Homo sapiens: one gene and its partners. The protein of the gene in region 1 purifies or fractionates together with the protein of each later gene. This does not show direct contact. Each region holds a gene or a part of one and is shown in the gene's direction. Other genes may lie near its edges. The genes, in order: HSPBP1, NT5C2, ELF2 and EDRF1.

What was found.
Region 2: the proteins of HSPBP1 (region 1) and NT5C2 purify together in Homo sapiens (affinity purification with mass spectrometry; 4 studies listed by BioGRID and IntAct, with this or other methods). This does not show direct contact.
Region 3: the proteins of HSPBP1 (region 1) and ELF2 purify together in Homo sapiens (affinity purification with mass spectrometry; 3 studies listed by BioGRID and IntAct, with this or other methods). This does not show direct contact.
Region 4: the proteins of HSPBP1 (region 1) and EDRF1 purify together in Homo sapiens (affinity purification with mass spectrometry; 5 studies listed by BioGRID and IntAct, with this or other methods). This does not show direct contact.

The regions. Positions count from the first base shown.
Region 1 is NC_000019.10:55,277,078-55,283,926, reverse strand, and holds the start of HSPBP1 (hsp70-binding protein 1), read left to right. Parts: upstream 1-3,816; 5' UTR 3,817-3,892; exon of another isoform or gene 3,893-3,997; intron 3,998-4,070; exon of another isoform or gene 4,071-4,180; coding exon of another isoform or gene 4,181-4,318; coding exon 4,319-4,528; intron 4,529-6,080; coding exon 6,081-6,285; intron 6,286-6,849. UniProt on the Homo sapiens protein: Inhibits HSPA1A chaperone activity by changing the conformation of the ATP-binding domain of HSPA1A and interfering with ATP binding. Interferes with ubiquitination mediated by STUB1 and inhibits chaperone-assisted degradation of immature CFTR.
Region 2 is NC_000010.11:103,087,536-103,092,303, reverse strand, and holds the end of NT5C2 (cytosolic purine 5'-nucleotidase), read left to right. Parts: intron 1-688; coding exon 689-740; intron 741-1,307; coding exon 1,308-1,368; intron 1,369-1,516; coding exon 1,517-1,693; intron 1,694-2,081; exon of another isoform or gene 2,082-2,395; coding exon 2,396-2,632; 3' UTR 2,633-4,266; downstream 4,267-4,768. UniProt on the Homo sapiens protein: Broad specificity cytosolic 5'-nucleotidase that catalyzes the dephosphorylation of 6-hydroxypurine nucleoside 5'-monophosphates.
Region 3 is NC_000004.12:139,167,193-139,174,225, reverse strand, and holds part of ELF2 (ETS-related transcription factor Elf-2), read left to right. Parts: intron 1-5,369; exon of another isoform or gene 5,370-5,459; intron 5,460-6,183; exon of another isoform or gene 6,184-6,324; intron 6,325-7,033. UniProt on the Homo sapiens protein: Isoform 1 transcriptionally activates the LYN and BLK promoters and acts synergistically with RUNX1 to transactivate the BLK promoter. Isoform 2 may function in repression of RUNX1-mediated transactivation.
Region 4 is NC_000010.11:125,722,682-125,729,714, forward strand, and holds part of EDRF1 (erythroid differentiation-related factor 1), read left to right. Parts: intron 1-386; coding exon 387-453; intron 454-1,129; coding exon 1,130-1,255; intron 1,256-2,636; coding exon 2,637-2,761; intron 2,762-3,000; coding exon 3,001-3,157; intron 3,158-6,321; coding exon 6,322-6,423; intron 6,424-6,676; coding exon 6,677-6,798; intron 6,799-7,033. UniProt on the Homo sapiens protein: Transcription factor involved in erythroid differentiation. Involved in transcriptional activation of the globin gene.

The DNA.
Region 1 (6,849 bases):
CGGGCCTCCAGCTGGAGGGATGGAGAGGAGGTGGGAGGATGCAGGAGAGAGGATGGAGGGAAGGATGGAGAGAGAGAGAGAGGACCCAACAGATGGGGCAGAGATGGAGATACACAAAGAGAGATGCTGGCTGACACAGAGACGGGAGACAGGCAGAGACGCCAGAGGGATGGAGACCACCAGAGACAGGCTGAGGCAGAGAGGGAGGAAGGGCAGAGATGGACAGGGACAGAAGAGAAGGAAGGAATGGCAAGCCGGGAAAACAGACAGGGAGAGGGAGAGAAAGCTGCTGGAAGCCGACAGAGGGATGGAGAGAGTCAGAGATTCAGAGAGACAGAGAGAGGAAGACCAACCAGAGAGGTGGGGGAGAGGGGGCGCAGATGGAGCTGTAGAGAGGGCCGGGGGTACACACAGGTGGAGGGACACGTGCTGGGGAGAGGTGGGGACATATGGAGGGAGACAGAGACAGAGAGGGGAAAGAATTCTTGGAGTTGCTGACCCAAAATTCATGTCTGTTTCCCCAGCCCCCTAAGGCCACCCATTCAGGGTAAGGGTAAGTCTGTGTCCCCACCAATGTCAAGGCCCCATATCTACCCACAGCCCAGAGTGATTTTGGATTCTCTTTACAGAGAAGCTTCCAGAACCCCCTCAGTTTCCCTGTGTTATGTTTTTAGACCCCCATATATTCTCTGTGCTCGTCATAGGGTCCTTTATATCTTCATGTGGACCCCAGTACAGCCCATACATCCCCACTGTAGCAGGTCCACAAGCATGTGCTCTGCCTGTGAGTAACCCGCCTGCCCCCATTAGCTTTCCGCATAAACCATAGATCCCTCTATGTCATGTACCCGCAAGTGTTAGACACCCATTTAATTCTCAAGTCCCCTGTAAAGCACACCCAGGGCTGGGCAAGGTGGCTCATGCCTGTAATCCCAATACTTTGGGAGACAGAGGTGGGAAGATCAGCCTGGGCAACACAGTGAGACCCCATCCCTACAAAAATTTTTTTAAAAATTAGCCGGGCATGGTGGCATGTGCCTGTAGTCCCAGCTACTTGGGAGGCTGAGGCTTGAGTCAGTGAGTTCTAGGCTGCAGTGAGCTACGTTTGCACCACTGCACTCCAGCCTGAGCAACAGAGTGAGGCCCTGTCTCTAACAAAAATAAAATAAAATAAAGTGCACACAGGAGCCTATTGGCTCCTGTGAGATTTCCCAGTCCCCCATTCAACACCTTGAGTCCACACATCTTTAATGAGTGCCAAATCTCAGCCAGGCACTGTTCCTGTTGGTAAGAACGTGGCAGTGACCTAAATCAGCAAAAAGGCCTGTCCTGTGGAGCTTCCATGCTGGTGGATGAAACAGATGATCAGCAAGGTCAATAGGCAAAATGTATGGTGTGTTAGATAATCATGTCCGTGCTGAGGAGGTGACTACAGCAGGGAAGGGGGTTAAGAGGGGCCTGTTGAGCAGGGTACAATTTTAGGCGTCCGGCTTTTTTTGTATTTTTAGTAGAGATGGAGTTTCACCCTGTTAGCCAGGCTGGTTCTGTAGCCTTTTTTTTTTTTTTTTTTTTTTTTTTTTTTTTTTTTTGAGACGGAATCTTGCTCTGTCTCCCAGGCTGGAGTGCAGTGGCACAATCTCAGCTCACTACAACCTCCACATCCTGGGTTCAAGCGATTCTCCTGCCTCAGCCTCCCGAGTAGCTGGGATTATAGGCACCCGCCACCATGCCTGGCTAATTTTTGTATTTTTAGTAGAGATGGGGTTTCACCATGTTGGTCAGGCTGGTCTCAAACTCCTGACCTTGTGATTTGCCCACCTCAGCTTCCCAAAGTGCTGGGATTACAGGCGTGAGCTACCACACCTGGCCTGGTTCTGTAACTATTGAGTCCCTTTTTGCTCTCAAATGTCTTGCTATAGATGAAAAATTATATGATCACCCTCTTTTTTTTGTTTTGTTTTGTTTTTTGAGACAGGGTCTTCCCCCTGTTGCCTAGGCTGGGGTGCAGTAGGGCAGTCATAGTTCCCTGCAGCCTCGACCTCCTGGGCTCAAGTGATCCTCCTGCCTCAGCCTCCTGCCTAGCTGTGATATAAGCAGATGCCATCACACATGGCTAATTCTTGTATTTTTTTGTAGGGCTGGGGACACACTATGTTGCCCAGGCTGGTCTCGAGCTCTTGGGTTCAAGTGATCCTCCCACCTTGGCCTCCCAAAGTACTGAGATTATAGACCTGAGCCACTGCCCCCGGCCATGTATTATAAACTGATAGACTTGTACATAGATGTCCGTGTCCTAATTCCCAGGATCTGTGCATAAGTTACCTTGCATGGCTGAAGGGACTTTGCCCATGTGACTGAGATAGGGAGATTATCCCAGTTATTTGGGTGAGCTCGATGGAATCACAAGAGTATTTGTGAGAAGGAGGCAGGAGGAGCAGTCAGTGATGGAGATGGGAAGGTGGAAGCAGAACTTGGGGTGATGGGGCCACCTGTCAAAGAAAGAGTGTGGCCTCTAGAAGCTGGAAAAGGCAAGAAAAACATTCTCCCCGAGAGCCTCCAGAAGTGATGCAATCCTGCTGACAGTTTGATTTCAGCCCCGTGAAACCCATTTTGGATTTCTGCCCTCCATAACTGCAAGATAATAAATGTGTGCTGTTTTAAGCCACCACATTCTTAGTAATTTGTTAACAGCAGCAATAGGAAACTAATATAATAGCACATCCACAGGCCCAGATGCATCTCACAGCACAGTGCTAGAAACACCACACACACACACACACACACACACACACACACATACACACACAACCTATCTGTTTGGTCTTCCTGTTTCTGCCCAAAATATCCCCCTGCACAACCACGCCCAGCAGGTGATTGATACGTTTGTGACTGTGTGCCCGTTTTGCGTTGAGCACAACCTTTTCCTGGAGGAAAACGCCTCCTATCCAGGATCAACACGGGAGTTTCTTTAAGCCCAGCCCAGGGCCAACACCTCTGCAGATCGGCCCGCACCAGCACGTGCCCAGGCCTAAACCCCACTTCTGGAGCACAGAGGCCTCGGGCCTCCCCACCAAGCTGGCTCCTCTGGCGCTCTGAATCTTGCTGGGCTCTGGGGCACTTTGCTTTCCGGCTCTAGGCCTCAAGAATCCTCTCCTCTCCACCTGGCAGGACATGGGGAAGAGTCCATGAGGGAGAGGCTGGGTGATGAGAGGGATCCACGCCGCAGCTCCACTTGACAGATGGAGAAACTGAGGCCGAGAGAGGGGTTGCGGGGGGCATAAGGCTCACAGGCCAGCCATTACGGTTGCGACCCCAGGGCTCCTGTAGATGGGGTTGGTGGCCCCGGTGGAGGCGAAAGTCAGATTAGTTGGGGCGAGGTCCCAAACCTTCTAAGGATGACTGACAGCAATGAGTGGGAGGGGCCTGTAAAGGGGCCGGGGCCCAACTGGGAGAGTCTGAAAGGCCTAGAGCAGGGGCGGGAATCGTAGGGTGGGCGGGGTCAGACCTGGGGGCGGGGCACACGTTAGAAGAGGGGTGGAGCTTGCAAAAGTATCGGGGGCGGGACTCGCTGAGGTGCGAAAACTGGGCCAGGGGCAGGGCTTTGACCAGCTACTTGAGCGTGAAGGGGCGGCGCCCGCACGAAGGGGCGTCCCAGCTTGGAGGCGGGGCCCGGATGGGAGGGGCGGGGCCGAGTGCAGTATCCCGCCAGGTGAGAAGGGGATAAGAGTCGGGCAAGCAGCTTCAGCCGCAACCACGGCACGAAGTTGGGTGGGTACGCCTGGCACTTCCGGGTGAAACCGTGCGTATTTCCGGTTAAGATGGCGGCGCCCAGCAGAGTCAGGTGCGGACGACTTTGTCTGTAGGAGCAGCGGCGGCTTGAGGACCCGGGGAGGTGAGATCCGCCTTATTCCGGCGCCCCTCTTCGGAGAGGAGGGAGAAGACTTGTTGCTAAGGAGACCAAAGGGCGGGCTTGTTGCTACGGAGGCGGAGCAGTGAGGTTGCTAAGAGACGGGACGCACGCAGTGGAGATGGGGAAGGGGGGTTGTTGCCAGGGAGAGTGGGTGGGGCCTGTTGCTAGGGAGAAAGGAGAGGCTTATGACTTTGGGGAAGGGTCCTGTGGGTATGAAGGAAGGAAAAGGGGCTGTGGTTAAGTGGGCTGGGGGCAGAGTGGTTTGGGGTCATGGGGGGTCGCCGAGCTCCCCTGAAACGCCGCCTTCTCAGCAGACCCTCAAGAATCGACCCATCAGGACGCCAGAGCTGCTTCAGCGGTGACCACCTTCTCCCTCTAACACATTCTTCCCTTCTTCACAAACGGCCCATGTCAGACGAAGGCTCAAGGGGGAGCCGCCTGCCCCTGGCGCTGCCCCCGGCCTCCCAGGGTTGCTCTTCAGGGGGCGGCGGCGGCGGCTCCTCGGCTGGGGGCTCGGGCAATTCCCGGCCCCCACGCAACCTCCAAGGCTTGCTGCAGATGGCCATCACCGCGGGCTCTGAAGAGCCAGACCCTCCTCCAGAACCGATGAGTGAGGAGGTAAAGGATGGGGACCCAAGAAGCTGGGGTGAGGGGCCTGGGGACAGATAGAGTTGCCTTGGGAAGTGTGACTTGGGGAGCCACAAGAAGACTAGGGTCTTCTTGGGTGGGAGGCAGAAAACCAGGTGTGGAGGCATTGTGGGCTATAAATTGTGCTAGATGGGGTTATCGTTGACTGAAGGTCAGATCTCAAGAGAGTCTGAGGGGACATATCCTCTCCAGAGCCAGACTAACCTGGATTCAGCATTTCCAGCTGTGTGACCTTGGGTATATTACTTCATCTTTCTGAATCTCAAGTTCTTCATTTACAAATTGATAATAATAATAACTACCGTATAGGGTAGTTCTGAGGTTCTACTTTAAGTAGGGCTGCACACAGTGCCCAGCATACAGACAGTGCTTCTGAAGGCAGCAGTGTGTTTTCATGAAGAGCACAGGCTCTGTAGTCAGACTGCTGTTTTTTTTTTTTTTTTTTGGTGGGGGCAGGGTTGGGGGTGGAGGACACAGTCTCGGCTGGAGTGCAGAGGCGCAGTCTTGGCTCACTGCAACCTCTGACTTCCCGGTTCAAGCAATTCTCATGCCTCAGCGTCCCCAGTAGCTGGGATTAGAGGCATGGGCCACCATGCCTGGCTAATTTTCGTATTTTTAGTAGAGAAGGGGTTTCACTACATTGGCCAGGCTGGTCTCGAACTCCTGGCGTCAAGTGATCCACCTGCCTCGGCCTCCCAAAGTGCTGAGATTACAGATGTGAGCCAGCACGCCCAGCCTAGACTGCTTGGGTTTGATTTCAGGCTTTGCCAATTGCTGACTGTGTGACCTTGGGTAAGTCTCAACCTTTCTGTGACTCAACTTTCTCATCTGCGAAGTGGGGATAACAATGATATATACCTCATAGAGTTGTTTTGCAGATTCATAGCGATAGCTATTATATATAATGTTTAATCGACAATTACTGTATACAGAGCATTATGCTAACCCACTTACATATATGATATCATTGAACCTTTACAACAGTGAGGCATGAAACAGGCACAGAAACATTAAATAGCTCACTCAAATTTACTTAGAACTGTGACTAAGGAGACCTCTGCTCCCCTCCCTCACCCCCAAAAATTCCAGCAGTCACGTATTAGCTCTCATCTCCTTTTTCTTTGAGATAGTCTCACTGTGTTGCCCAGGCTGGAGTGCAGTGGCCTGATCTTGGCTCACTGCAACCTCTGTCTCTCAGGTTCAAGCGATTCCCTTTGCTGCAGCCTCCCGAGTAGCTGGGATTACAGGCTCACGCCACCAGGCCTGGCTAATTTTTGTATTTTTAGTAGAGACGGGGTTTCACCATGTTGCCCAGGCTGGTCTCAAACTCCTGAGCTCAGGCAGTCTACCCACCTCGGCCTCCCAAAGTGCTGGGATTACAGGGATGAGCCACAGCTCCCAGCCGATATTTGTTGACTGAAGGAACATCAGCCCTCAGTTGTTGGCTGTCTTTATTAATGGCTGTTCCTTTGTAATGAATGACTGATGGATCTCCTTCTTTCCTCCTCGCCTTGGTCTCCAGAGGCGTCAGTGGCTGCAGGAGGCCATGTCGGCTGCCTTCCGAGGCCAGCGGGAGGAGGTGGAGCAGATGAAGAGCTGCCTCCGAGTGCTGTCACAGCCCATGCCCCCCACTGCTGGGGAGGCCGAGCAGGCGGCCGACCAGCAAGAGCGAGAGGGGGCCCTGGAGCTGCTGGCCGACCTGTGTGAGAACATGGACAATGCCGCAGGTACCCCGCTTCCCCCGCCAGGACGTTCTGCCCCTCTGTACATGTCCTGCTGCCTCTCAGCTCTTGCCCCTACTCTTGGGGCTCACACCGTCAGCCTCCCTGCTGCCTTCTCACCATCAGCCTGTTCGCCTCCATTGCCATAAGGAGCAAGGCTCTGCCTCACCCTCATGGCAGGTGGAGTCCCCCACTTCCCTGATCAGCTCTGAGATGGCTGTTTCTCTCCTAGTCCTCTGGGTGTCCACTGCCACTCCCCAGAGTACAAGAGGGAAAGTGGCATGGGTGGGGTGGCAGAGAAGGCCTCCCCGGGGTGACGTTTGATCAGAGACCTGAAGTGAGGTGAGAGTTGTGGGATGATCTCTGGGAAAAGCATTCCAGACAGTAGGAACAGCCAGTGCAAAGGCCCTGAGGCCAGAGTGTGCCTGGTGTGTTCAGGAACAGCAGCCAGGCCCTTGAGGCAGAGTAGAGTGAGTGAGGGGCCAGGCGCAGGAAACAGCGCTGGGGTGGGCCTCGCAGATGGGGAGGTAAATGCTGTTTTACTCCAAGCAGCAGAGCTCACAGAAGGTT
Region 2 (4,768 bases), on another chromosome or scaffold:
TATTTTACCTTTCCAATGGAGCTGAATACAGAAAATTATTTGAGTAACACTTTTCTCAATTCTCCTAAAGATGGTAGATAGAAGAAAATGTGTTACATACAGTAGATGAAGGAGGGCTTGTCTTGAGGAACCCAGACTGACAAAGGCTGCAACACACCGGCAGCATGCTGTAGATGCTGGCTGTTGCTGTTACTGTCTGTACTATCAGTGGGATTTTCTGGCTAGCCTTTCATTCACATTTTCAACTTTCTACCTATGAAGTTTTAGAAATCTAGTTGATTTGGCCCTGGACCTGTGACTCAGGAAAAGTCACCTGATTCTCAATCTTTCATCTGAAAATGGGACTGTTAACATTTGCTTAGCTGACTGCACCTGAGACAGCATGTAAATTCTGGTACTTTACAAGCTCAGAATGAGCGTGCAGCTGGAAGGGAAAGTTGTCATCATGGTGTTTAAGCAGGAGGAAAGGCAGTTAAAGAGAAGGTGATGGTGTTCATCTGTTGTCAGACTCCAAGCAGGTATCAGTGAGTTATCCTGAAGAGGGGAAGAGGAGGTAACTGTACACTCAGCATGTTAGTCCCAGGTTCTACTTTCCAGTCACATCTGCAACCTTTTAGTTTAGCAGCAGTTAAGAACTAGGTGCTTATTTATTTAAAATGTCTTCCTTTTCCTTCCAAACCTTAACTAGCACTTTTCGAAGAACTTCAGAGCTTGGATATTTTCTTGGCTGAACTCTACAAGTAAGTTTTCTAAAAATTTCTTTCCCAAAAACTTACTCAGGAATCACTTAGATATAAGAAATGTTCTTTCCAGGCCAGTAATCCCAGCTATTTGGGAGGCTGAGGCAGGAGAATCGTTTGAACCGGGGAAATGGAGGTTGCAGTGAGCTGAGATTGCACCATTGCACTCCAGCCTGGGCGACAAGAGTGAAACTCCGTCTCAAAAAAAAAAAAAGTTCTTTCCAGGCCAGGCGCAGTGGCTCATGCCTGTAATCCCAGCACTTTGGGAGGCCAAGGCAGGCGGGTTGCTTGAGGCCAGAAGTTTGAGACCAGCCTGACCAACATGGCAAACGAAACCCCATCTCTACCAGAAATACAAAAAGTAGCTGAGTGTGGTGGCACATGCCTGTAATCCCAGCTAATTAGGGTGGCTGAGGCAGGAGAATCGCTTGAAGCTGGGAGGCAGAGGTTGCAGTGAGCCGCGATCACACCCCTGCACTCCAGCCTGAGTGACAGAATGAGACTGTCTTAAAGAATAAAAAAAAGCTCTTCCCAGAGATTTTCACTGAGTTTTTCTTTTATCTTTAGGCATCTTGACAGCAGTAGCAATGAGCGTCCAGACATCAGTTCCATCCAGAGACGTATTAAGGTATCCAAATGGGATTTGGGAGAAAACTTGGGAAATAAGTTTAAATGCTTTTTTCACATTCCTGATTTATTATAGAGACTAGCATTCAACTACTGCTCAATAAATATTTGTTGAATGAGCCAAGAATCAATCTTGTTCTTTGTTTTAGAAAGTAACTCATGACATGGACATGTGCTATGGGATGATGGGAAGCCTGTTTCGCAGTGGCTCCCGGCAGACCCTTTTTGCCAGTCAAGTGATGCGTTATGCTGACCTCTATGCAGCATCTTTCATCAACCTGCTGTATTACCCTTTCAGCTACCTCTTCAGGGCTGCCCATGTCTTGGTGAGTTAAAGCTGTAATGGACAGCCAAGATGTACTCTAAGCCCAGGGTCAGCAACCACCTTTGTGAGATGGCACAGGAGATAGTTTGAACATTTCTTTCTGATGTACAGAGCCCAGGGGCAGGTTATATGGTTGCATAAGAAGGGGTCTTTGAGAAAGTAGAACCAACATTGGAAGTTAAGAGTGTAACTTTACTCTCTGAAGTCTACTCTATTAAAAGCTGTATGTGGGCCAGGCATGGTGGCTCATGCCTGTAACCCCAGAACTTTAGAGGCTGAGGTGGGAGGATTGATTGAGCCCAGGAAGTCGAGGCTGCAGTGGGCTGTGATTGCTCCACTGTACTCCAGCCTGGGTGACAGCGAGAGACCATCTCAAGAAAAAGAAAATGTGGTTTTTACATTCCTTTATTCTGATCTGTTTCAGGACTATCTTGTTTTTGCTGTAAAATAGAAAGTAAACTCCCCTCTCCATCTTTTCCAATTTCCAGCTGCAGTAGACAATATGGGCACCATTTTGAGGGGCAGGGAGAGAGGAAGACAGGCAACTATAAGTAGTTCTATGAAGATAAGTCTATATTGACTTGTCCTGTGGTCCATTATAGATGTAATTGCATGGCCACCTAACAGAGGAGAGGGGTTAGGATTTGGGGAGTAGCTACTTTGCTCTGCCTGCTTTCTGAGCCTCTAGCTTTTTTCTGTCTAGATGCCTCATGAATCAACGGTGGAGCACACACACGTAGATATCAATGAGATGGAGTCTCCTCTTGCCACCCGGAACCGCACATCAGTGGATTTCAAAGACACTGACTACAAGCGGCACCAGCTGACACGGTCAATTAGTGAGATTAAACCTCCCAACCTCTTCCCACTGGCCCCCCAGGAAATTACACACTGCCATGACGAAGATGATGATGAAGAGGAGGAGGAGGAGGAAGAATAAGGAGGAAAACCAAAACCCCAAGCACCCATTAAACAAGTCCTGGCAGGACTCACAGGAACAAACGAGGTCCCTGTTAGGGTTCTACTCGGGGGAGGGAGGGGGCTCCATGAAAGGTACGTCTGAAAAGTTTCTGAAGATTTTATTATCATAGATACTTGTTTTGGTTTTGTGTATCTGTACTCTCTGCAGATGGTCCAAAATTGTAATGGAGTCTGTATTAGAAGAAAATAAGGGTAAAATCAGGCTGAACTGCATGTATATGGCTCCACTGTGGCTTGTGACACTTTTAAAATCATCCGTATGTCAGTGTATCTGGATACACGAGGAAAAGGAAAGAGTCTCAGAGTGGAACAAAGAGTGGGAAGAGGTGATCTGTAATGTTACAAATTGTGCTATTACTCCAAGGTCCAACTTTTCCAGTGCATTACATGGTATTGTATATCAGTGGAGAAATGTATTATTTCCATGATCAAATGTAGTCTCTGTTAAGGTCAAGTTTTCTTTTATAAGCCTTTAATTCATCCTCAGTGACTCTGGCAAGGCTGCTTCTCTATCACTGGCTTTGCACAGAAGTATGCTCTACTTGCGTTGCTTTAGGGCAGGATTCTATTTTGAGGGAAAAGACAGTATCCTTATTACCTTTTGTTTGTTTAATAGCACAAATGCTTATTTGTTATCCAAAAACAACCTCCTTCTTATCTGTGATAAATCTATAGAAAGAATTTAGCTGCAAGTGGACAAAGGAACAAGCCCCCAGAAAAGAAAGGGAAGAACTGCCTTCTTATACTACAGAACATGCATTAGTGTGGGCTATATAGCTGTGGCTCATGCTACCCAATTCCAGATTTCTTTGTCCTCTAAGAGTTGATTGCTGTATATTAAAATTGAACATCAGAGGATGGGAAGAGGGCTCTGTAAGCCAGAACCTTACTAAAGTAGAGGGCACAATCAGTGTGAATAAATTCACTTCAGAATCTCAAGTCAAGGCCAGGCACGGCGGCTCACGCCTGTAATCCCAGCACTTTGGGAGGCCGAGACAGGCGGATCACCTGAGGTCGGGAGTTCGAGACCAGCCTTACCAACATGGAGAAACCCCATCTCTACTAAAAATACAAAATTACCTGGGCGTGGTGGTGCATGCCTGTAATCCCATCATCTACTCAGGAGGCTGAGGCAGGAGAATTGCTTGAACCCAGGAGGCGGAGGTTGCAGTGAGCCAGGATTGTGCCATTGCACTCCAGCCTGGGCAACAAGAACAAAACTCCATCTCAAAAAATAAAAATCCCAATCCCAAGTCGAAATCACCTCTTGTTTTAAACAAGAATGAATCATTACTGTGTATGTTAGGGTATTAAAACTGTTTCACCAGTACAGTGAAAGTTGTTTCAACATTTTAAACAAACAGTGGTTATAGACTCTTTCTTTAACCATTGTATATTTTCTTCCATTCTTGTCATTGGTCAATAGGGGAGGGTAGATTAGCTGCTCCAGAATTCAATAAAGTGTAATATTTCTAACGGTGACTTTGACCTATTCTGTAGTACAACTGTAATAGCTATTGGTCTTCAAGTGGGTTTAGATTTGGTGACATCAGTTTGATATTCTCTTAAAGGAAATAAATATTCAAGAACTGATTATGTTCTAACATGATTATATTCATGGTGTTACATAGGCCTCAATTTTTTCACAGAAAGATTTTTGGAACAGGACTGTGAAGTGAGGCTTTTTAAAAAATTATTTTATAAGCAGAGAACACAGCCTGATAACTTAGTCAAGGATATACTGTCTGTCTCACTACTTTGGACTTATATGGCTTCAGATTAAGTCATCCAAGAAACATACATACATTCTAAATGGTATATATTGGGAATATATGCCCCTTTAAAAGAATCAGGTCAGAAATGCAATAACAATTAGACTAGACTGTTGCCCGTGTTAGGAGAATGTGTGGTCATCCTAGTTACTAATTACTCTCACTCAAGATGGAGATGTTGTCCAGTTTAACATAGTCTTAAGTTTTCTTAAACCCAAATAATTTATGAGTAGCTTATTACATCTGCAGAGCTACCTTATTATAATAGTACATTTACATATTGTCTCTTTTAGAGTAAGGACCACATGATTGCTTTGCTTTAA
Region 3 (7,033 bases), on another chromosome or scaffold:
TTCTTTTTTTTTTTTTTTTAAGATGGAGTCTCGCTCTGTCGCCTAGGCTGGAGTGCAGTGGTGTGATCTGGCTCACTGCAACCTCTGCCACCCGGTTCAAGCGATTCTCCTGCCACAGGCGCATGCCACAACACCTGGCTAATTTTTTTTTTTTTTTTGTATTTTTAGTAGAGATGGGGTTTCACCGTGTTAGCCAGGATGGTCTCGATCTCCTGACCTCGTGATCCGCCCGCCTTGGCCTCCCAAAGTGCTGGGATTACAGGGGTGAGCCACCGCGTCCGGCTAATCTATTTTCTTTTTTATAGAGATGGGGTTTCACCATATTACCCAGGGTAGTCTTGAACTCCTGGGCTTGAGCAATCCTCTCTCTTTGGCCTCTCAAAGTGCTGGGATTTCAGGCTTGAGCCACTGCACCTGATCCTTTTTAATTAAAAAAATTTTTTATAGTCTTTTTTTTTTTTTTTTTTTGAGACGGAGTCTCGCTGTGTTGCCCAGGCTGGAGTGCAGTGGCACGATCTCAGCTCATTGCAACCTCCGCCTCTCGGGTTCAAGCGATTCTCTTGCCTCAGCCTCCCAAGTAGCTGGGACTACGGGCGCGTGCCACCACGCCCGGCTAATTTTTTGTATTTTTAGTAGAGATGGGATTTCACTGTGTTAGCCAGGATGGTCTTGATCTCCTGACCTCATGATCCGCCTGCCTCGGCCTCCCAAAGTGCTGGGATTACAGGTGTGAGCCACTGCACCCACCCTGTAATCATTTTTTTTATTGATGAGTAATATTCTATTTATGGACATATTACATTTTATTTATCTGTGCATCAGTTGATGGACATTTAAGTTTCTATTTTTTTGGGCTATTATGCTGCTATGAATATTCATGTTTTTGTGTAGATGTGTTGTCATTTCTTTGGGTATGTACACTTTTTAATAAATTAGCTTTTGACTTACCTGATACCAAAAAAATTATCCATTTTGAGTATATAATTCAATAATTTTTAGTAAATATATAGATCGTGAAACTATCTATCACCTTGAGCTAGTTTTCGAACATTTCCATTGCCTCCAAAATTCCCTCCAGCCTGTTTGCAGTTAACCCTTATTCCCACCCCCAGCCTCAGGCAATCACTGATTGGTTTTGTCTTAATCCATTTGCTTTTACTGGATATTTTGTATAAGTGGAATTGTACAATATGTAGTCTTTTGTATCTGGCTTCTTTCACTTAGCATAATGTTTTTGGGATTCATTCATATTGTAGCGTTTATCAGTTTTTTGTCCCTTTTTACTTTGGAATAGTATTTCTTTGTATAGGTATATGATAGCCCCCCCCCCCCCCCCCCCCCCCGTTATCTGTGTGGGATACATTCCAAGACCCCCAGTGGATGCCTGAAATCTCAGGTAGTATTGAACCATATATTATTTTTTTCTGTATCTGTATACCTAGGATAAAGTTTAACTTGTTAATCAGACATAATAAGAGATTAAAAACAATACAATAGAATAGTTACAACAATATGCTATTCACAATTTCATAGAAGATTTCTTACTGTAGGTGTTAGCAAACAGCATAAAGTTTTTTTCTTGTTAAATTGAGAACTTTCACTTTTTCACTTAAAATAAGTATTTTACAGCTTCTTTTTGGCATATCCAGTTGTCATCCTCATTACTCTTGAGTGTTTGAGCCATTGTTAAGTAAAATAAGGGTTACTAGCACTAAGATACTAGTTGATCTGATAGCTGAGATGGCCACTAAGTGACTAATGAGCAGGTAGTGTAGACAGCGTGAATATGGTGGATAAAGGGATGATTCATGGCCGAGGCAGAGGGGCATGGTATGAGGTTTCATCATGCTGCTCAGAATGGCACTCAATTTAAAACGTAGATTATTTCTGAAATTTTCCATTTATCATTTTCAGACCATGTTTGACTGTGGGTAACTGAAACTGCAAAGTAAAGCTGTAGGTAAGGGGAGATTACTGTAACACACTTTAGCTGTTGACCAGTATATATAGGTGTTTCGATTATTTCCAGTTGTTGACTCTTTAAATAATACTCAAACATTTGAGTACAAGTCTTTATGTGGACATATGGTTTTGTTTCTCTTGGTTAGCTATCTAGGAGTAGAATTACAGCATCATACGTTTAGCTTTTTAGGACACTGCCAAACTGTTTTCCCAAAGTGGCCATAACGTCTTATATTGCTAACAGCAATGTTTGAGAGTTCTAGTTTTCTTCACATCTTTGCCAACACTTATTATTGTATTTCTTTTTTAATTATAGCTGTTCTAATGGATATGAATTTGTTTGTTTTTGAGTCACTCTGTCGCCCAGGCTGGAGTGCAGTAGTGCAATCTCAGCTCACTGCAACCTCTCTCTCCTGGGTTCAAGCAATTCTTCTGCCTCAGCCTCCCGAGTAGCTGGGATTACAGCCGAGCACAACTATGCCCAGCTGATTTTTTGTCTTTTTAGTGGAGACGGGGTTTCACCATGTTGCCCAGGCTGGTCTCGAATCCTGAGCTCAGGCAGTCCTCCTGCCTTGGCCTCCCAAAGTGCTAGGATTACAGGCGTGAGCCACCATGCCCGGCCTGATTTTGTTAATTTGTTGTGTTTTTTTTTTTGTTTTTTTCTCTGTGTACTGTTTAGTGGAGTCATTGTGATTTTAATTTTAATTTTCCTTATGACTCATAGTATTGAGCATCTTTTCATGTATCTTTTTTCTTAACCCATTTATGCCCGAAGTTGCAATTTTTTTTTGTGAAAAAGCAGACCTTGGCGATGACCTTGAGCAGTAGGATATTAATAATTCCCACAAGCTTAGCATTCCAAAAATGGAACACTTGGCATAAATGGGCTGGCTGGAGTGCAGTGGTGCGACCAGAGCTCACTGTAGCCTTGACCTCCTGGGCTCAAGCAGTCCCCCTACCTCAGCCTCCTGAGTAGTTGGGAATGGGGAATGCAGGTGCATACCACCATGCCCGGTTAATTTTTTATTTTTATTTTTTGTAGCGATGGGGGTCTCACTGCATTGCCCAGGCTACTCTTGAACCCCTGGGCTCAAGCAATCCTCCTGCGTTGGCCTGCCAAAGTGCTGGGATTACAAGCATGAGCCACCGTGTCTGACCCATCTTTTTTGATGACATCACTATTCAGATCTTTTGCTCCTTTTAAAATTGGGTTGTTTGGGCTGGGTGCGGTGGCTCATGCCTGTAACCCCAGCACTTTGGGAGGCTGAGGTGGGTGGATCACCTGAGGTCAGGAGTTCGAGACCAGCCTGGTCAGCATGGTAAAACCCTGTCTCTACTAAAAATACAAAAATTAGCCGGAGGTGGTGGCGCATGCCTGTAATCTCAGCTACTCAGAAGGCTGAGGTAGGAGAACTGCATAAACCTGGGAGGCGGAGGTTGCAGTGAGCTGAGATTGCAACACTGCACTGCAGCCTGGGCAACAGAGCAAGGCTCTGTCTCAAAAAAATATAATATAATATAATTAATATAATATAATATAATATAATGTAATGTAATATAATTGGGTTGTTTGACTTATTGAGTTATAAGAAGTTTTTTTTTTTAGAAATATATTCTGGATGTAAGTTTTTTAGTAGATACATGATCTGCCAATATTTCTTTACAGTCTGTTGCTGGTCTTTTCATTGCTTAAAAAATTGGTGGCTGGGCGTGGTGGCTCACACCTGTAATCCCAGCACTTTGGGACACTGAGGCTGGTGGATCATGAGGTCAGGCATTCGAGACCAGCCTGGCCAACATGGTGAAACCCCATCTCTACTAAAAATACAAAAATTAGCCGGGTGTGGTGGTGTGCACCTGTAGCCCCAGCTACTTAGGAGGCTGAGACAGAGAATCGCTTGAACCCGGGAGGCAGAGATTGCAGTGAGCCGAGATCGCACCACTGCACTCCAGCCTGGGCAACAGAGCGAGACTCTGTCTCAAAAAAAAAAAAAAAAAAAAAAAGGCGATTAAGATCTTTTAAAGTGTAATTAGTTTAAATTTTGATGAAGTGTGGTTTCTAAATTTTTTCTTTTATAGATTATACTTTTGTTGTCTTATGTAAGAACTCTGCCTAATCCAAGATCTTGAGATTTTTCTGCTTTCTAGAAGTTTTATAGTTTTAACTCTAACAGTTAGATTTTATCATCTATTTTGAATTAATTTCTGTGTATGGTGAGAAATAAGGTTCTAAATTCATCTTTTACATACAGATGGTTCTGTCAACCTAAGTAAAAGACAGTCCCTCTGAAAGAAAGCAGTATTTATTCAGGAATGGGCATTATAATGGGAATATGCATACCGTAGTAAACTATGTGCATATTCAGGGAGGTAAAGGAAGACATAGCTTTTTTTTTTTTTTTTTTTAAGACAAGAGTCTCGCTCTGTCGCGCAGGCTGGAGTGCAGTGGCGAGATCTCAGTTTATGGCAAGCTCCGCCTCCCGGGTTCACGCCATTCTCCTGCCTCAGCCTCCCGAGTAGCTGGGACTATAGGCGCCCGCCACCATGCCCAGCTAATTTTTTGTATTTTTAGTAGAGACAGGGTTTCACCGTGTTAGCCAGGATGGTCTCGATCTCCTGACCTCGTGATCCTCCCACCTGGGCCTCCCAAAGTGCTGGGATTACAGGCATGAGCCACCGCGCCCGGCCAAGACAGATTTTTAAAGGAAAAATGAGGAAGATTACATCATTGTTTTAAATCAATTATGTTTGGCTATAAAGATCAGTGACAAGAGTGATGCCAGTCTGAGGTTGGACATGAAGTTACTGGGCAGATGTCCTTGCAGAAGTATTTTTTTGTGTAAGGTTGCAGTTGCCTTTGTGCAGGGTTGTGGCCTTTATGAGTTTTTTTGTGATAGTTTTTTTTTTTTTTTTTTTTAAATGTAGTCCCGCTCTGTAGCCCAGGTTGGAGTGCAGTGGTGCGATCTCGGCTTGCCGCAACCTCTGCCTCCCGGGTTCAAGTGATTCTCCTGCCTCAACTTTCCACGTACCTGGGACTACAGGCCTGCGCCACCATGCCTGGCTAATTTTTGTATTTTTAGTAGGAATGGGGTTTCACCATTTTGGCCAGGTTGGTCTTAAACTCCTGACCTCAAGTGATCTGCCTGCCCTGGCCTCCCAAAGTGCTGGGATTACAAGCGTGATCTGCCTGTCTCGGCCTCCCAAAGTGCTGGGATTACTGGCGTGAGCCACCATGCCCGGGCAATAGTTATTTTTTTTTAATCAGGTATTCATGCATGAGAACCCTCCTTTCATGGCCTTCCCTGGCTCCATTTGTCAGGGCTTTTAACACAAATGACTCAATTTTAATTCTAACAACTTTCACTTTTCCCCCTTTTGATCAAAATCTTTCTTTGGACCCAGGCACAGTGGCTCATGCCTGTAATCCTGGCGCTTTGGGAGGCAGAGGCAGGAGGATTGCTTGAGCCCAGGAGTTTGAGACCCACCTGGGCAACATGGTGAGACCCTGTCTCTAAAAAAACAAATAAAACAAAAGGGATCTTTCTTTGGAAGCATCACTGATCAATCATCTTGTAGTTAGGTTTTAATTATCTTTAGGTGCCAGGATGGACCTGTCCTGGGTTGTTGGTATGGTCCCATGTTGGAGGGAGTGCTTGTCAAACTAGGAGTCAGTGTCAGGACCCTTTCAGTCACATTTGAGCACACAAGGGAAGTTTGGAGGGAGTGATTCTCAGGCTAAGTCTGCCGGGAATCCATTATTAAGATCAGTTTTTGTCTGTTCCTTAAATGTAGGCTATCATCTCAGGGTTTAGGGCCAGCCCAGTATAATTCTGTTGGGTCAGTATAATTCTGTACTACTACAGAAATGTAACAAATAACATGTACAAAGTTTAAAAAGGAAAATACAAAGTAAAATTAATAGTAATATAATACCAGTTTACATAATGGTTTTGAGCCATGAAGCTAGACCTAAAGGCAGTCAGTTGAAGAAACCAAGTGACCATGGAGAACTAGATGAGACCTGTTGTAACCATGTGATCTGTTTTCTTATTTTGCGTATGAGTCTCAACTTCCTCAAAGGAATTTATCCAGGTAAATCATGTAGTATTAGTAATAGCACAGACATTTCTTTACTTAACCAATAGCTAATGCAGAGCATTGTTATCATTCGGCATTCCATAACTGGGTTGAATTAAAGCAGAGTGTGAATAATTTTTTTAGGGATGTTGCCAGAGTCACCCACTAGGTGGACTGAAGGATCTCTTAGGTCAAGTTCTGTCAAGTTACCAGCAGAAGCTACTGATTGTGAAATTTCAGTTACAACATTATCTTGCCAAGTGAAAAAGCTACGCCTTAAGAGGGGTAAGAGTCTCCCCTTGTTCAATTATCTTGGGAAAACCTGTCTACAGTGCGGAACCATCGACTTCTCATCCTGGTTTGCAGTTTGAATGTCTCTGGTTAAGGCATTGGGCAGTTTGGTGAACTTTTCTGTGTGGCTCAGACTTCGAGTACCAGACTTGTCCCTTAAAATTCATCGAGTTTCAGCTTATAGGGCTTCAGGAACAGAGCAATTTCTGTTTTAATAATTCTGTGGAAGAAAGTTGGATTGGAGGAACCTAGAAGAATTTAGGATCTAGGCCAGTTTGCAGGTAGATAATAAAAACTCAAATACAGTGTACAGGGCTACAGTCTAATAATAGATACAGTAGTTTTTCTTTAGAAGCATAACTTTTTATAGTCATCCCAGTTTCTACCAATCAGAATAAGACAAATTTGTTTATAAAATAGTTTTATTAGTTTTTTGTCTGATTATTTACATAAATGCAGCAAGAATAGCTGTTGACCACAAAGAAATCTCAGATTTATAAACCCTTCAAGACTAGGAAGCCAAACCAAGGGAGACATTAGATTTCACCTACAGCCTTAAGGTTCCTGGGCTGGCCAAGAAGTGACAGATTATATTCTCTCACTGTAGGAATGGGAACACCTGAACCCAGACATTGTGTGCACATTCTTAAATAAGATATTCCAGTCAAAGTCTTGGTAATATAACTAACGTTTCTAATTGTAT
Region 4 (7,033 bases), on another chromosome or scaffold:
TGTTTCTGTTTCTGTTTTTCTTATCTCTCCACCTAAAAAGAATAAAGTTTTGAACTATTTTCCCTTGGAGACTTTGAGTTTTGTGATTACAAAAATAAAGAATAATTGTTTTTATTCTAAATATTTCCTACTGGATGCTTCTAATGATTATTACCATGTTTTATCAAATCTAAGATGCCATTGACTTTAAGACACACCATTATTTTAGTACCACTAAGAAAAAAAAACTTGCCAACTGTGATGGTGATACACATCCTGGTTTCAGAGTTGTTAAAATGTGGAAAATGTGTATCCTAGAAGCAATGAGCTACAGTATTGTTATTAAGCTCTACTTGCATGATTATGAGCATGACCTCATAACCTGTGTCCTTTTTTCTCTTTGGTAGCTTTGGCATGGCATATGACTTTATTGATTCAGTGGGAAATGATGTGGATGTTGTCTCTGACTCTGAAGTAAGTGTTATTTGTCGCTTAATGTAATTTTGGAGGTGTTTTGTGATAGGTGTTTTATATCATGCTGTGTTTTGCATAATATAAATGTGCAAGTCTTGAGAAATTAGTGATGAAATAAGATAAAACTTACCTGATTATTGAGTATCTTTTTTGTTGTTAAAGTATCATTGTTTACCACATTTGTATTTAAAGAGGAAGGAATAATCAATCCCCAAACACTGGCAGTGGTAATAATATATTGATGGTTATATTTTAATGATAGTAATTGAAACTGATAATAGTGTTTGGGATTATTCTGTATATGTTACCAGTTGAGTTACAAATGATATTTCTAGTAAAATCTATTGGATCCTTAGTGGCTTTGATCTGATATGCTAAAAGCCTGGGTCAGCATAACAGTGTGACGTATACACCCTTAACTTTAAGAAATCCTATCATGTAAAAATAAATGTTTGACTGTCACTAACATAATGTGACTCATAAAGTGTACGTGATTCTGGTTTGAAAGCTCCGTCCTCTGTGTGTTTGCATGTAGCTTTTTGTTTAAAGTTCTATTTGTATAACCTTAAGGAAATAAGGTTTATTATGCTTTAAAATGAATGAAGCTAAAATTTAAAAGATTCCAAATCACACTAAAACAGTCTTTCTAAACTATTTTTTCTCTTAATTTTTTAAGAACATAAAAAAACTCCTGAAAATTCCCTACAGCAAGTCGCACGTGAGCATGGCAGTACACCGCATAGGAAGGACTCTCTTACTAGATGAGCTAGATATTCAAGAACTCTTTATGAGATCGTCTCAGGTAATGCTTTTGTGAAAAAATCCAACAAAACATTAACAGCTTAAGAGCACTAGAAATACGATTTTGTTTCAGAGAATGGCCAAAGTGGAAATGTAGTTGAGTACTTCAACAATCGAGAAATTGAAAGTTTCACTGAAGATAGAAAAGCTTGAATGAAGAAAAAAGAAGAGAATGAGAATGGTGAAGAAAATTATTTTATTGATTCCAACAGCCAGATTCTTTTTTACAAGAAAAAAGATGAAGCCAATGAAGAAAGTTGTGAAAAAAACTGTGAAATTTAAGGGACTAGTTTAATATTTTTAAGAATCCTTTAACGTCTCCCTTAAACAGATTCTCAGGAAACACAGCTACTGGAAAATGTGAAAAATATTAGAAGCTGTTCCTATGAATAAATACAGTCATGTTCCCATAATGACGTTTCAGTCAGCGATGGACTGCATATACCGGTGGTCCCATAAGATTATAATATACTGTATTTTTACTGTATTTGCAGTGTTCAGATACACAAATACTTCAGTCACATGTACAGATTTGTAGCCTGGGAGCAATAGGCTATACCGTATGACCTAGGTAGGGAGTAGGCTGTACCATCCAGGTTTCTATAAGTAACACTCTGCGATGTTCACACCAGGACAAAATCACCTAATGACGCGCTTCTCAGAATATATCCCCATTGTTAAATGACACATGGCTGTAGTTATTAGAATTAATTGATGCTCTTTAGCCTAGATTCTCAAATTGTATGTTGGTAAGGACTGTTTTTCCCACATGTTGAGAATGGATACTTTTGAAAAACATAATAACATTGTTGCAGTTTCTCAAGAACTACCCTCCATATCTGTACTTTTCTTGGGCTGGCAAGAAATAGTTCATGGTCAGTCTTTAAAGAATATTACTACAGTGCTTTGATAAAGAAAATTAAATTATGGTGAGGTAAATGACATTTAAAATAAGTGCTTTTTTCCTTTGAAAAGACCACCGTTTAGTTCATCATGTGAGTATGAGCCTAGGCACGGGGATGTGACAGTGAACAAATCACAGGCCTTGCTCCTCAGCAGTTCATTGTTTGGGGTTATAAACACATACACAGATCATTTCAATATAGTGTGCAAAGTGGGAACTACTGCAGCTGCTAAGGAACATGTTATAGAGAAGACTCACCTCTCCCAGCCTGGCTTAGGAGGAGGAAGACGGGTTTCCTTTAGGAAACAAAAAACAAAAGAAAGGTGGTATGAATTGACCCAGAAAGATATGTTTTTAATGAGTATGTGTTTATGAAACTATTCAAAAAATAATAGGAGCCTTTTCTGTAAGCTAGTACTAGGTAACATTGTTTCGACTATGTGTGTTGTATTAATAATATGTATCTCATGTTATCCAGACTGGTGACTGGACATGGTTGAAAGAGTTTTATCAAAGACTCATTGATCAGAAGTGGCAGAGGAAGAAAAAGAGCAAAGAGCACTGGTATCAAAAGGCAATTCTTTCCAAGTTTTTATATTACAGGTACTTGGCTACTTATTTATCTCTAAAGAGAAAAAGGGAATTCTGATCTAAAATTTAGTGTGAAGCTTAATGAAGTTATAATTTAAGTTTTGCCCCTGTGATACTGTTAACATTTGTTTCATATTTCTTTTTTACAAGATGTATGCTTAATTACAGATTGTAGTTTTTATAAACGGGTAGACTGTTGCATGAAGTTAACTTTAGTAACAGCAATCCTTTTTTATTTCTGGTTTGGCCAGTATCAATGGTGATGGAGCCGCTCAGCCTGTCTCATCCACCGCAGAACAGCAGGAATCGTCCAGTTCAGATCAGACAAATGATTCGGAAGGGGCTTCATGGCCTGCTCCCTTCGAAATGCCTTCTTCAGTTTCTGAAGATCCCAGTGCTTCCAGTCAGGTTAGTACTTAAATGCTAATTCTAGAAACTCACATAGGAAAACAAAGCCTTTTTTAACATCTCGTTAAAAAAAAAAAAAGATGAACAGGACTAAGAAATATTCTGTCAGCTTATGGAATGGGGGAAAAAAGACTTCTGTCAATTTATGGAATTGGAGAAATACTTTTTAGTTTTTCGCAATAGAATTTACAAGAGCTATTATAGGTGGGGAGATCAGATTTTTTTATTAAATCGAAATATAATAGTTGACTGATATGTTTATTAATACTGATTATCTCCTTCAAGTGATGAGTATTATATAGAGATATAGTATATTTTAATTATAAATACTAGTCATTTTTAACTATAAATACTATTTTAACTATAAATATCTGTCAATATTTGATAGACATTTCCTACCAAATATTGAGACTCAGAGACCCATTTGTAATTTAAGTTCTAACCTTTTTACCATAACTTTCAGTCAGATTGTTAGACCTAAAATATCCCTTTAAGGTTTTCCAGATAAAATTCCTGAAACTTAGTCCACATTCATGTTATAAAAGTTTTAGAAAAGAGAATGAACTAGGTTGTCCATTTTATCTCTTACATCCTTGTTTCTTCCTAATGCTTGTTTATTTTTGTACTTACTGTATCTATCAAAGAATAAAATAAAGCCATAGATGTAAATTGTGACATGTCTATTTTCAGGAAAATAGATTGATAAATAGATAATAAGATCTGTGACTTGATAAGTTACGTCTTCCCTCTTGCTGTTGTGTTCCCACATATTGAGCACTATTCAACCAGATTGTTTCAATCTTCACAAATTACAGGGAGCAGATACATTTAACTCGATTTTAGTTTCAGTAGGTTTAAGATAGAGAAAGCATCCCATAAAACTCCATAATGAATTTAAATTTCTTTCAAAAGTGAGAAAAATGTAAGGAAAAGGAAGTAATTAATATGCAAGTCACATAGTGGTAACAACCAAGAAGTAGGGATGTTCTATGATTCAGAAGGGAGAAAAGACTACATAATACAAATACTACCCTCCTATTACCCATGTCACCCATCTCCCAGTGTTGTTCTGTCTTTACCTTGTTTAGGAATTACTGTGAAAACTCTTGGAGAGTCGGGAATCTGTAGACTTGCGTGTTGAGGAAGCAAGCTGGCATTTACTGAATAGCTCTTATGCCATGTGTATGTTTGTACAAGGTTTTTTTTTTCATTCTTGGAGCTGCGTATTGTACAAATAAGTAAACTAACGCTCATCAAAAGATGTTTCACATGGTCATACAGCTGGCGAAACTCTCAGGCTAGGGCTTAAACCCAGATCTTTCTGCCTGCAGAGGCCTGTTCCTCCAGCAGTACTCCACTGTGTCCGTGTACTCCACACACAGCAAGGCCCTACTAACAGTCAGATCATCGTAGTAGTGGTGTATCCCTAGGCACAGCTAGCCTGCCTTAAGAGTCTCTTACAGAGTACTTTTCTTATATTGCTTAAATTTCAGCTTTAGAGATTTGTTTATATTTGCAAGCTATCTCTGCACAAATTCTTGTTCCAAAAACTAAAACTGCTGGCTTGAGGCCTTTGTTAAGCAGTTATAGAGGTTAAATAGGTGACTGTGGGATGGTCCTAGAGCCAGACATTTATTGAGAACGTTGTAACCTAGAGCTCATACTCTGACTAAAGCAACTGCCTGGCAAACTGTTTTGAGAATCGGTTCATGAGTTGATAACTTGTCTGTGTAAACAAATAATAAAATAAAAAAGAGTTTAAAGTTCTCTTAGGACTCCTGAGGGAGAGGACAAGGCACAATAGAAGTGCTAGAGAGCCACCTGTGCTTATAGTCACACACTCTTCCCAAGCAGGTGCCAAGCCTACTGGCACACACAGATGACAAGTAAGACAGATGTTTGTGGAATAAGCAACACACGCATGCCTGTCTTGGGTTCTGTTGAGGCAATGACATTAAAAGCTTAAAGTAGTATTTCTTAATGGCAGTACTACTTTCCTAATGATTGGAAAATTGAGTGGTAGGCTGAGTTTACCCAGTGTCAAGAGGGCCCAAGTGTATTCCAAAATGCATTCCAGGCTGGGCGCAGTGGCTTATGCCTGTAATCCCAGCACTTTGGGAGGCCGAGGTGGGTGGATCACTTGAGGCCCGGAGTTAGAGACCAGCCTGGCCAACATGGCGAAACCCCATCTCTATTTAAAAAAAGAAAAAAAAATTAGCCGGGCATGGTGGCACGTGCCTGTAATCCCAGCTACTCGGGAGGCTGAGGTAGGAGAATTGCTTGAACCCAGGAGGCGGAGGTTGCAGTGAGCTGAGATCATGTCACTGCACTCTGGCCTGGGCAACTCTGTCTCAAAAAAAAAAAAAAAAGTATTCCAGAGAATATCTTAAGAACAAAAAGTGTTCTGAGATTAAATACATTTGGGAAACATTGGTTTTTACAAAGATAAAGTAGATTTTTCTATTGCAGGATTACTTATTATATATTTATTGTTTTAATATCAATAAATATTGTTACTCCACAAAAGTGAGTACCTGGTAAACGTCATCTTTCAAACCTGACTCTGGAAAATTTTCATTCAGTTTCCCAGGAACTAGTGTTCTGTGAAACACTCATCAGGAAATGCTAAACTGGAGACTGTTAAGATAATGAGTATCTCAAACTGTGGCTGAGTAAGATTTCTTAGGGTTTCTTTTTTTTAAGAGACAGACTCTCATTATGTTGTCCAGGCTGGATTCGAACTCCTGGGCTCAAGCAGTTCTCCCCTGTCGACCTCCCACATAGCTTGGACTACAAGCACATGCCATCGTGCCTGGCCAGTTTCTTAGGAATTTTTAAATTCAATATAGATAGAGTAGGCTGAAAGAGCAGTGGTAATCAGATGCACCAAAAAAGAGAAAAATGAAAAACTTAGAAAGTTTAGAATAATCTTTAATCTATCTCTCTTGAGTAAGATCTAAATGTGATTCGCTTCTTATAGTAGCTATGATCATTAGCCAAAGCAAGCCACCCAATGAGGCGTGTTATTATTTGTATTGGCCTAATAATTCACAATGGTAGATTTGAAGTGTGTGCTTTGAATATTTAGGTGATACTCTCAAAAGTGGGTCAATTTTAAGAAATGTTGACAGCAGAATCACTCCTTATCCTTGCACTTTTCACAGGGAAGTGAGCCTCTTGAACCCTCATACATAGTGGGGCATGTGGCCTCAGCCCCCAAAGAACAAAACCTGATTACTTTATTCAATGACGGGGAGCACAGTCAGGTATGCTTTCCATGGTGTCCAAGGTGACAGCAAATCCCCAGTCTACTTTGTCATTTCAAAACTAGCCTAAGTCGAAATTGATAGGGAAAAACTCCACTTGATCCTGAAACTGCTTTCTAAGCATCTTTGTGATCTTAGCTCTGGGGCCTGACTTTGTCTTCTTTGTCTCTTCCTTTTTCTAGTCTTTTTATGGATCATGGGGGGAAATTACAGATTGACTGTTTATTATAATCCTCCCTATTTTAAATCACAGGGTCTTAAAAATGATTTTGTTCGGAATATTCTATGGACATTTGAAGATATCCATATGTTGGTCGGCTCCAACATGCCCATATTTGGAGGAGGCAGATACCCAGCAGTCAGCTTACGTCTCAGGTGAACTAACATCATACCCCTCCTCAAGCTTATGGTATTTAAATTCTTCCTTTAGAATCAGTGTTCCATCAGACTGAGGTTGCAGTGAGCCAAGATCATGCTACCGCACTCCAGCCTAGGCGAAAGAGCAAGACTCGTCTCAAAAAAGAATCAGTGTTCCATCTATTTGGGCATCTTCCTCTTTCTCTAGGTTTTTTCCCCTCCCTCCTTCCCCTGCCAGTTGAAATGGCCACAT